3 linked regions of the Homo sapiens genome follow. The protein of the gene in region 2 purifies or fractionates together with the protein of the main gene of each other region. This does not show direct contact. Each region holds a gene or a part of one and is shown on either strand. Other genes may lie near its edges.

Evidence for each region.
Region 1: the proteins of SZRD1 (region 2) and MTMR2 fractionate together in Homo sapiens (co-fractionation; one large-scale study listed by BioGRID). This does not show direct contact.
Region 3: the proteins of SZRD1 (region 2) and NT5C2 fractionate together in Homo sapiens (co-fractionation; one large-scale study listed by BioGRID). This does not show direct contact.

What each region holds. Positions count from the first base shown.
Region 1 is NC_000011.10:95,847,503-95,851,151, forward strand, and holds part of MTMR2 (phosphatidylinositol-3,5-bisphosphate 3-phosphatase MTMR2), read right to left. Parts: intron 3,248-3,649; coding exon 3,098-3,247; intron 2,361-3,097; coding exon 2,172-2,360; intron 398-2,171; coding exon 212-397; intron 1-211. UniProt on the Homo sapiens protein: Lipid phosphatase that specifically dephosphorylates the D-3 position of phosphatidylinositol 3-phosphate and phosphatidylinositol 3,5-bisphosphate, generating phosphatidylinositol and phosphatidylinositol 5-phosphate.
Region 2 is NC_000001.11:16,365,795-16,370,093, forward strand, and holds the start of SZRD1 (SUZ RNA-binding domain-containing), read left to right. Parts: upstream 1-1,447; 5' UTR 1,448-1,463; coding exon 1,464-1,514; intron 1,515-3,298; exon of another isoform or gene 3,299-3,757; intron 3,758-4,299.
Region 3 is NC_000010.11:103,186,747-103,190,395, reverse strand, and holds part of NT5C2 (cytosolic purine 5'-nucleotidase), read left to right. Parts: intron 1-3,149; exon of another isoform or gene 3,150-3,271; intron 3,272-3,649. UniProt on the Homo sapiens protein: Broad specificity cytosolic 5'-nucleotidase that catalyzes the dephosphorylation of 6-hydroxypurine nucleoside 5'-monophosphates.

The sequences.
Region 1 (3,649 bases), on a different chromosome or scaffold from region 2:
CAAAAGAAATACAACATAACCAAATGCACAATATAAAAAACCAATTCATTCAAACATTAAAATTCACTAGTAGTTCCAAGTATCAAAGCATTTACCCATTTTTCATTGTTTAGAAAGGTACCTTCATGTTGATTGCAATTATAAGTAAAAAGCTAATATAAACAAAGGGGTAGAGAGAGTCTTTGTTTGGGATATAGTAACACACACCCACCTTAATATGTTCTAGCCAATGAGTAGATTCCAAGTTAGACAACCAGTGGGTTTCCTCAATGTTGGGGTACACAATCTCCTTAAGTTTTCGTAATGATTCTCTCATAACATGAATATTGTGGATATCCAGGAAAACTAGTTCAGCATTTTGATAGGCATCTTCACTTTCATAACCTCCACCCTTTGCCTGGAAAAAAGCACACATCATGGAAAATCATAAATGAATGCACATCTGTAAACAAGTGACATAAAATATCCAATAGCATAAAAGATGATACATATTACTGGAGACAAGGAAAACTCCACAGGAAAATGTGGATGGCTCAGGACAACTTATTTAGCACAACCACTCGCTTTCTTGTGTTCTTCTTTACAAAATGAATATATACGTAGTCTGACTTGCCCATATGGCCATTATTAAAATTAAATATGAAACACATAGGAAGGTATTTAAACACTGTAAAGCACTAAATTTTCCCAGCCCATACGCCAAGTCCTACCCAAACATAAGTTCTTACAGATGACTTCCTTTCATATATACTGAAATTACCAGACTGTAAGTTTCATGTGCTGAGACCACATGTCTGGTTCACCTATGCTTCTTCACCTCCCTGCCTCTTCACCTCATTTTAATCTTCATATCTGAGAAATAAACTCTTTGCAATCAAAATGACCTGCTTCTTTTTTAACCACATAATTCTCTTTAAATAAAAAGACAGAACAAGGATAAAAGCACAGAATGCTATCATCATCAATGTTCTCAAAGACTTAAATCTACATCTACAAAATAGAATGAGAAAATATTTGGTGTTCAAAATAAGCTATGGCTAGAAAGAAGAACCTTATTTTTCTGGACTTAATCTTTTTATATTTCATGAATAAAATATTCTATCTCCTACCTAACTCGTGTAAAATTATACTTCTTAGAGCCCTAATAGAAACAAATTAGGAAAATACTGGAGCAGTAAATTATACAAAATTAAGTGATTATATGACCCACACCTTTGAAACAACAAAACCACCAACTCATAACCAGCAACAAACTACTGAAAGAACAGAAGTTCAGCTTCCTTTCTGACACTGAGAGTCTGGGAAATCGTTTGGCACAATTATAGAATTTACAGTATTTCAAGGGATACCTGTTAAAGATTACTTCTGAAGAGTGGGAATAAGACAGGAACTTTCAATTCAAATTTGTTGCAACATTCTAGAAAGACAGCAGTGGTAACAACTATACAGAACCTGTCACCGAAACACATAGAATAAAAATGCCCTGGATTCAGGTAGTGGCATGGTTGTACAACTTTGTGAATATACTAAAAGCACTGAAATGTACACTTGAAAAGATGAGCGCTTTTCAGTAATGGTACCTGCTGCTGTAGTTATGTCTTCTCTCTCCTTCCCTCCTCCTATAGATTTGGTCAACTGAACCAAAATTTCAATTTCCACAATGCTAATATTTATTCTGCTGGAACAATCAGCTACAGCTAACTGCCAATTCTTCAGTCTGAATAACTTGTTCAGGTGGAGGACGGTCAGAAGAGGGCACCACTAGTCACCGAGAACACTAGTTCGCTATTCCTAGAGCAGTACTATACAGGGACTTCAGTGAGTCATAAGCTCAGTTAGTTGTCAACTTTGGAGAAGTGGGAAGCTAAGAATAACTGAACACCTAGTTATTATGTAAGTAAGCAAAAGTTTATGCATTATTTTTTATTAAATGATTTTTGCTCCCAAAACAACACTGTTAACTATTATTATTCTCATTTTTACCAATAAACAAATTGAGGTCTAAAGAGGTTAAATAACTAACTCAAAATCACACCATCAAGTTGAAGAGCCAAGACAAGAACCTATATGTTTACCACTGTAGAGCCTGAGCTCTTTTTACTACACTGTGGCCCTGCCAAACTCAGCTGATTCATGAAACCATAATTATAATTACTAAGAGACCATCTGACCTTGTTGGCAACAGCATTAACACTTGGCCGGGCATCAAATATAAAGATTTTGTGAGACTGGGCATTGGAATCCATGATAGCTTGAAGGTATTTTTCATCTTCTTTGCTTCGCTTTCCACTCACTCCAACCATGGGCTGGCTACACCGAGTGATTGTGGCTTGACTTTCAGGATGAATCCATGATAAAACCTTAATGAGGAAAAAATGGTAACACACCTTTTACATACTTCTCTGTTTATAATTCTCAAAAACAGTACTCAGTAAAGCTCTGCTTTCTAATTGGATCCAAAGCCTGGCCATGAAAGGACATCTGAGGCTGCTAAGAAAAATCATCACCTTTCCTTCAAGCCAATTCTGGGATGTGGAAAACTTGGTCTAATTCTTTAGTCAGATACTGATTTAGGAAAGTATTTGATTATTGGGAAATGTTATCTCCTGAAAAAAATACTGTGAAACAGGGCTAAGTAAACCCCACTTAATATATTAGTAAAACTGCTCAGTTCTAAAAGCCTTTAGAATCTATGAATTTTGTACCTAAAATTATTTAAGCTCATCTTTCTAAGATCCAGTTATAAATCTGTAAGGTGTTCTTTCTAGGACTTAAAAAAAAAAAAGAACATTTATCATCATGACTAAAGAATATACAATAAGATAAATAAATAGTGACTAATACACACAGCAAACTTTTTCAGTGAAGAATCATGCAATTCTGTGCAGTTATCTAATACCCATATCACACTCTCTGGAAGCCTCTTTAAGTCTTTCTTCCAGTTTTAACTTTACTAAATAAATCAATCTCCAATATCCCCATGAAAGACCTGCTGCTGTAGCTATTTATATCCTGAATCCATTCTCCTACTCATTAATCTCAGCATTATGTTGAGTAAAAAAGCACTTGCAAAGGCTCATCCAAACTTCCTACTTACTGGGATACGGCCTCTTGATCTGAAGGATGCCACTCTCTTTAATTCTTCATCAGGAATATTTGCTGGCACAACCAGGAGGGCAGGGTATGTATCACAAAGTTCATATCGTTCATTTATCTTTGTTATTCTCCAGCTTTCATTTGGAATTCCCTACATGTGAAATGAAACATAAGACAAATTACTATATAACTAAAATATTAAACGACACCAGGACAGAAGCCATCCTGTTCAATCTCTCTGACCTCTACTATCCATCTCCTAAAGTGTTGGGATAGTTGTTGTCAGCCTGTGGTATCAGGCTTTCAGGATTAGATATTCTAATGTAGGGATACGTATTCATTTGTGGAACCCAATTTGATGTTAATATAACAGACATTAATTCACTAAATATTCAGTGTGGACCTGTGCTAAGCATATTCAGGAGGTGGAAGGAAACAGTAAGACTTCAAATATTCCTTTTTTTTTTTTTTTTTTTTTTTTTGAGACAGAGTCTCACTCTGTCGCCCAGGCTGGAGTGCAATGGTGCGATCTCAGCGCACTGCAACCTCCGCC
Region 2 (4,299 bases):
TACACTTGGGGAACTGAGACATAGAATCCTTATGTAACTTGCGTTAAGATCACACAGCTTTTTTTTTTTTTTTTAGTAGAGATGGGCTTTTGCCTCGTTGCCCAGGCTGGTCTCAAACTGCAGGGCTCAAGCGATCCCCCCGCCTCACCCTTCCAAAGTGCTGGGATTATAGGCGTGAGCCACCATGCCCGGCCACATAAATAACTTTTTTTTGAGATAGAGTTTTGCTCTTGTTGTCCAGGCTGGAGTGCAATGGCGCAATCTTGGCTCACTGCAACCTCCGCCTCCCAGGCTCAAGCGATCTTCCCGCCTCAGCCTCCCGAGTAGGTGGGATTACAGGCATGTGCCACCATGCCCAGCTAATTTTGCATTTTAAGTAGAGACGGGGTTTCTCCGTGTTGGTCAGGCTGGTCTCGAACTCTTGACCTCAGGTGATCTGCCCACCTTGGCCTCCCAAAGTGGGATTACAGGTGTGAGCCACTACGCCTGCCCTGACATAAATAATTTTTTTTTTTTTTGAGACAGAGCCTCACTCTGTCGGCCAGGCTGGAGTGCAGTGGCATGATCTCGGCTCACTGCAACCTCCACCTCCCTGGCTCAAGCAGTTCTCCTGCCTCAGCCTCCGGAGTAGCTGGGATTATAGGCGTGTGCCACCATGCCCAGCTAATTTTTGTATTTGTAGTAGAGACGGGGTTTCACCATGTTGGCCAGGCTGGTCTTGAACTCCTGACCTCAGGTAATCCGCCTGTCTCGGCCTCCCAAAGTGCTGGGATTACAGGCGTGAGCCACCGCGCCTGGCCAGTAATTTTTAGAGGTAATACTAACGTATTTATCTACCATTAAAGACCCAGGAGAACTTAGTAGCTGGGAATCCCACTGGTTCTCCCAACTGAGGTGCAATATTATCTTTACCGTCTTTACCTTACGGTAGCGGATATAGTGTTAATAAATGATTAGAATACTGCTTTATGAGCAGGAAATACTGTAATGATTTTCACCCTATCAGAAATAATAAAATGTTTTCTGCATCAGCAGATATTTTTCATCATTTGTTGGTGTTTAAAAATGTTTTCAGAATTCTGAAGATACCATTATCTGTAGTTTAGGAAAACTACGACTCACTTTAAAAGAAAAAAAGTTTTCTTTAATTGCCTGCCCTTAGAAAAGATGGTTCCACAGAACACACTTCCGGTACTCGAGATGAGGACTTCCCTTGAACGCCCATTCTGTAAGACAGATAACGCGTTGGCCCTTAAGAAAGATGGCATCTTTCCGCCTTCTCTGCCCCCTTCCAAGATGGCTGCCCTAATGTACACTTGGGACCTTGCCTGGCGCCTCTTCCGGGCTTGGCAGCGGGCGGGGTCCATTGAGTAAAGCCTTGCGTGCCTGCGCCCGCGACGGAGGCGCGCTTCAAAGCGCAGGCGCGGGGAGGGGGTGGGGGAGGAGGGAAAGCGGCGAGTAAGATGGAAGATGAGGAGGTCGCTGAGAGCTGGGAAGAGGCGGCAGACAGCGGGGTAAGGAGGAGCCGCCGTCCCATGGCAGGGCCGGGCGAGACCTGGCGTGAGGGGAGCCTCCGGGGAGCGGGTCTGGAGATAGTTCTCCCCAAGGAAGGGCCCCATACGCCGGGCTGGGGGTGGTGGAGAGGCCCCCAGTTCCTGAGCGCCGTGAAGGCCTCTTAAAGGGGCCGCGATCCATTTCTCTCCTTTCCTTTGCCTGGTGCGCCTCCCTCCGCCCACTAACGCGCGCGTCACCCGGGGCGCCCCACCCGCCACCCGGGGCCTCCTTTCCTGACCCCCCGCGCCCACTTGCTGGCCGTGGGCCTCTGTGACTCTTTCCGATGAGCCTTGTGGCCCGAGGCACCATTTTAAAGTTCTTGTGCTCTGACCGGGACGGACACACCATGTGGGTGGTGGTGGGGCTTGCGCGGACCAAGGAGGCATGTCCGGCTTCGCAGGAAAGCGGGAGGAGGCAGCCGAGGGCGGGGGGAAATTGAATCCTCTTTGGGCTACTCAACTCTGCTAAAATCCCCCACCATCCGTCACGGTGGACGAGTCGGGTTTTTTTTCTCTTTCACTTTTACTCCAAGAAGAGTTTGTGGGCAGGCAGGCAGGTCTCACGGGGACTCTGCCAAAGCAACCGAAAGCTCTGCGGGGCAGCTCCTCTGCCACTCAGCGATCCGAGGCCCCGGGAAGGTCTAGGAGTTCGCTTGTCGGAGTCCAGGGTGTGATATGTAAAACAGCCACATTCTTGGGAGAGGAGTGGGGAGATGGACCGTTCGACTTGTTTTTGGAGTTTTTGTTTGCCTCCAGAAACTGTAGGAAAATAGTTTATCTCAAAGAGGATCTGTCAATTCTCTTAGATTTGTGAATAATTTGGTCTTTTCAGAGTTTGTCTGTGGTGACCCTTGTGAATATGGGGAGATGCTTTTTTTGTCTCCCCGTGTTCGCGTCTGTTCAATGCTGGCTGCACTGACATCCACCTTAAAGGTTTACGTGTGCGAGGAGTCGAGCGTACCAGGGTAGAGTAGGCGCTGGGTTTTTTTTCCTAAGCGCTTTTTGGGGGTGCTTATGAGCTCTGGAAGAGGCCGGGAAATTGACCCTGGCAGCAGTCAGTGGGTGTATCTAGCTCTACGGGAATGTTGAAACTTGGCTTTGAAGTTTTTTCCGCTGGTTCAGCATTTCTCTCAACGGTTGTTTATGTTTTTCCATTTAGCATAATTGAGAATTTGAAGGATTCGTTCGTTCAGAGGATATTTAGTAGAGTTCTTAATGTGACAACCATCTTTCTTGAGTTTTGGCTTAAGAAAGTTAAAGATTTTATAGGGAGTAACAGGTGTCAGTTGGCTCCTTGTTCATTCAACCAGCATTTTTGAGTGTCTGCTATATGCTAGGCAGTGTGCTTATCAGTGACTTTGTGCCAGAAAATGCAACATTTTCGGTACAGGCGTTTATTGCCTACCACTAATCTGAGTGAATCATCCAGACATCCCTATAAAAAAGCTTGGCTTACAACTTTAATATCATGCAAATGATACGTTTCTTGGGCATCTTGGCCTTTCTTTGGTTTTCCTCACCTGTTTCAAAGGGTCATAAATCCCTCATGTTAGAGAAGTTGGAGGCAAATGAACAAAAATGAATAGGATTCAGCAGAAATTGGGGCTTACTTTAGTTTTTCAGAATGGGTAAGTCAATTAGAAATAGCTAGTACAGTCCCCCATTTAACAGCTGAATAAGCCTAGAGATGTGAGATTTAGAGACTTAGGTCTTTCTGACGCTTGTCGCGTGTTCTTTCTTTTTTCTTTTGGTTCCCAAGTTTTATTGAAAAACTTATACAAAATATTCCAGATAAATGAAATTTAATCCTCATCTTCCTCCTCTTTGTCCTGGTTAATCTGGAAGTAACATAATTTGTAGCTATCTTTGCTGTTAGTAACTAGGAGCAACCAATCACGTAAATTATTCTTCATATATGTTTTGGTGAGATATTTGAAATACCTTTTGGAGAAAGGCACCTCGGATGTCACGTTGATCTTGCTCTTACTCCTTTCAATGGTCGCCATCCCTCCACCAAGGTTCTCAGCTTTTCCGTTCACTTTGATCCTTTCTTGCAAAAACTGCTCAAAATTGGCAGCATCCATGATTCCATCTTCTACGGGGTGAGTGCATTCAAGAGTGAACTTCAGAACCTGCTTCTTTTTTTTGCCCCCCTTCACCACAGGCTTTTTCACAGAAGCCATGGCAGCAGCGGAGGCAGAAAGCCAGAGTTCTTTCTGCTATCCCTTACTTTAGTAATATCCTTTAAAAATGTACCGCGGCCAGGTGCTGTGGCTCACGCCTGTAATCCCAGCACTGTGGGAGGCTGAGGTGGGTGGATAACCTGAGGTTAGGAGTTCCAGACCAGCCTGGCCAACATGGTGAAACCCCATCTCTACTAAAAATACAAAAATTAGCTGGACCCTATGGTACATACCTGTAATCCTAGCTACTTGGGAGGCTGAGCCAGGAGAATTGCTTGAACCTAGGAGGCGGAGGTTGCAGTGAGCCGAGATCATGCCATTGCACTCCAGCCTGGGCAACAAGAGTGAAACTCCATCAAAAAAAAAAACAAAAAAAAAAAACTACAGAGGTGGAACACAAACCTTGCCTTATTGACATCATGAACACTTCTGCCAAAATGCAGGTTCTCTAATATATTTTATTTAATTGAATCCTTGAAACAACCTGTTGAGGCATTGTCCCCCTTTTATAGACAAGGAAACGGAGGTTTCGAGAGTAACCTGTTTTGCGCAAGATCACACAG
Region 3 (3,649 bases), on a different chromosome or scaffold from region 2:
CTGAAGTGGATGTATTGAGGGTATGATTAATAGATTGTTCTCACTAAAAGGGTTTGGTAGAGCAGTAGTCTGAGATAAAACTGGAAAGAGAAATTCTGGTAAGCAGTTTACAAGTATGCTACATGGATTCTTTGCAATTAGAGCGGAGTGAATGACCACCTGAGGTCAGGAGTTTGAGACCAGCCTGGCCAACATGGTGAAACCCCATCTCTACTAAAAATACAAAAATTAATCAGGCGTGGTAGCGCATGCCTGTAATCCCAGCTACTTGGGAGGCTGAGGCAGGAGAATCGCTTGAACCCAGGAGGCGGAGGTTGCAGTGAGCTGAGATTGCGCCACGCACTCCAGCCTGGGTGACAAGAGTGAAACTCTGTCTCAAAAAAAAAAAAAAAAAAAAAGAAAGCCACAAAATTAATGCGGCAAACCGGCCAGGTGCGGTGGCTCACGCCTGTAATCCCAGCACTTTGGGAGGTCGAGGCAGGTGGATCACCTGAGGTCAGGAGTTCGAGACCAGCCTGGCCAACATGGTGAAACCCCGTCTCTACTAAAAATATAAAAAATTAGCTGGGCGTGATGGCGCCCACCTGTAGTCCCAGCTACTCAGGAGGCTGAGACACGAGAATCGCTTGAACCTGGGAGGCAGAGGTTGCAGTGAGCCTATATCGTGCCACTGCACTCCAGCTTGGGCGACAGAGCATCTCAAAAAAAAAAAATTCAGTAAACAGTAAAAGAAAAAAGTTAAAAAAATTATGACAGTCTTAATCTTTGTTTTTTTTTTCGTTTTTTTTTTTGAGATGGAGTCTCGCTCTGTCGCCAGGCTGTAGTGCAGTGGTGCGATCTCGGCTCACTGCAGCCTCCGCTTCCTGGGTTCAAGCGATTCTCCTGCCTCAGCCTACCGAGTAGCTAGGACTAAAGGCGTGTGCCACCACGCCCAGCTAATTTTTGTATTTTTAGTAGAGATGGGGTTTCACCATGTTGGCCAGGATGGTCTCAATCTCTTTACCTCATGATCCGTCCGCCTTGGCCTCCCAAAGTGCTGCGATTACAGGCGTGAGCTACCACGCCCGGCCCTTAATTTTAATTGTTAAAATTTGATAAAGAAGGTGGGTAGTAGACATATCAAATGATCATTATATTATTTTCTGTGTGTTTGAAATATTTCACAGTATTTTAAGATGAACCTAAAATAAAACATTAAAGAAACTCCATTAAACTAATGAGCCTATAAAAATATATATCCCACTGGGCATCTGTAATGAAAACATGCTAATACTCAGCAAGCTTACTGATTTTTTTTTTTAAGCCGTTAAATTTCAGGCATCAGATTTCAGTCTTCTCTTTCCAAGCACATAGTACAAGCAGGCTCTTTCATCCCACACTCTTTTTTTTTTTCCGAGACGGAGTCTCACTTTGTTGCCCAGGCTGGCTCGATCTCAGCTCACTGCAACCTCTACCTCCTGGGTTCAAGCAATTCTCCTGCCTCTGCCTCCCGAGTACTACAGGCATGCTGAGAATACAGGCATGTGACACTGTGCCCGGCTAATTTTTGTGTTTTCGGTAGAGATGGGGTTTCACCATGTTGGCCAGGCTGGTTTCAAACTCCTGACCTCAGGTGACCTGCCCACCTCAGCCTCCCGAAGTGCTGGGATTATAGGCATAAGCCACTGCGCCCAGCCCAAATTCGTATGTTATACAGAATTTTCTGATTTATAAATGTGGGCAACTGATCGTAAAAAATTGTAAAAAACACTGTGACCTCTACAGAATCTGGACCCATAAATCTGTTTCTACATCTGGAAGGGAACTTGAGAGTCTTCCACGTTCAATGCCTTCATTTGACAGATGGGGAAAGTGAATCCCAAAATGTTTTGCATTTTTTGTCTTTTATGCAAGAAAGTCTTCCCTACCTTTGATCCGTAAGGCTGTTCATCTCTATATTCTTCTGTAAATTGTATGGTTTTGCTTTTTCACATTTAGGTTTATTGACAGTGCGTATTTTTTTCTGCTTAGTTTATCTTTATTTTTTATTTATTTATTCATTTTTGATTTTTGCACTGTCGCCTGGGCTGGAGTGCAATGGCGTGATCTCTGCTTACTGCAACTTCCACCTCCTGGGTTCAAGTGATTCGTCTGGCTCAGCCTCCCGAGTAGCTGGGATTACAGGCGCCCGCCACCATGCCTGGCTAATTTTTTTGTATTTTTAGTGGAGATGGGGGTTTCGCTATGTTGGCCAGGCTGGTCTCGAACTCCTGACCTCGTGATCCACCTGCCTCGGCCTCCCAAAGCATTGGGATTACAGGCGTGAGCCACCGCGTCCGCCCTATTTTATCTTTAATATGATCAGCTAGTATTTGTGTTACATATTCTTTTTCTACCATTATGTTTGTCATAAAATTATGCTCTATAAATTCATAAGGACAGGACATGCTTTTGTTATGCTCTGATTTTGGGTCAGAATATTGTAGAAAATGAAATTTTTGAATTCATTTTAGTGTAAATATTTTACAGATTTCTGCTCTTCTACATTATTTTGTCTCATTTGCCTTTAAAGATGAGTAGTACATGTATTTGACTATCCTTGAAAAATATTTTGCACACTTTTTATAGCAGTCATATTAGAATCTAGTTAGGCATTTGTGTATCTCTATCTAGTTTGTTTGAGAGCTGCTAAGTAAACCAGCTAGAATAATAGTGTGTAGATTGAAATAGCTCAAACATTCTGTATCAAAATTATAAGAATTTTAAGTTATTTTAATAAGCATTTAACAGTATCATGCTGTGTAAATAAGACCAAGCTGTGGCTTGGAGAGTAAACATTAAAAGTTTTTTTTTTTTTTTTTTTTTAAGATGGATTCTCACTCTGCCCCCCAGGCTGAAGTGCATTGGTGCAGTCTCAGCTCACTGCAACCTCTGCCTCCCGGGTTCAAGCAATTCTCTGCCTTAATCTCCCGAGTAGCTGGGATTACAGGCGCCCACCACTACACCTGGCTAATTTTTTATTTTATTTTATTTTTAGTAGAGATGGAGTTTCTTCATTTTGGCCAAGCTGGTCTTGAACTCCTGACCTTGTAATCTACCCGCCTCAGCCTCCCAAAGTGCTGGGATTACAGATGTGAGCCACTGCAACTGGCCTTTTTTATTTTTTTAAGGTGGAGTCTCTCTGTGTTGCCCAAGCTGGAGTGTAGAGGTGCGCTCTCAGCGTACTGCAACTTCCGCCTGCTGGGTTTAAGCGATTCTCCTGCCTCAGCCTCCCTAGTAGCTGGGATTACAGGTATGCGCCACCATGCCTAGCTAATTTTTGTATTTTTAGTAGAGACAGGTTTTGCCCTGTTGGCCAGGCTGGTCTTGAACTCCTGACCTCAGGTGATCCGCCCACCTCAGCCTCCCAGAGTGCTGGGATTATAGGCGTGAACCACCGCCCCTGGCCTAACATTAGAATCTTTCACAAATCTGGTCAGTAAATGCCTTTTTTTTTTTTTTTTTGAGACGGAGTCTTGCTCTGTCACCCAGGCTGGAGTGCAGTGGCTCCATGTCAGCTCACTGCAGCCTCCATCTCCCGGGTTCAAGCTGTTCCTCTGCCTCAGCCTCCCTAGTGCTGGGATTACAGGCATGTGCCACCACGCCTGGCTATTTTTTTGTATTTTTAGTA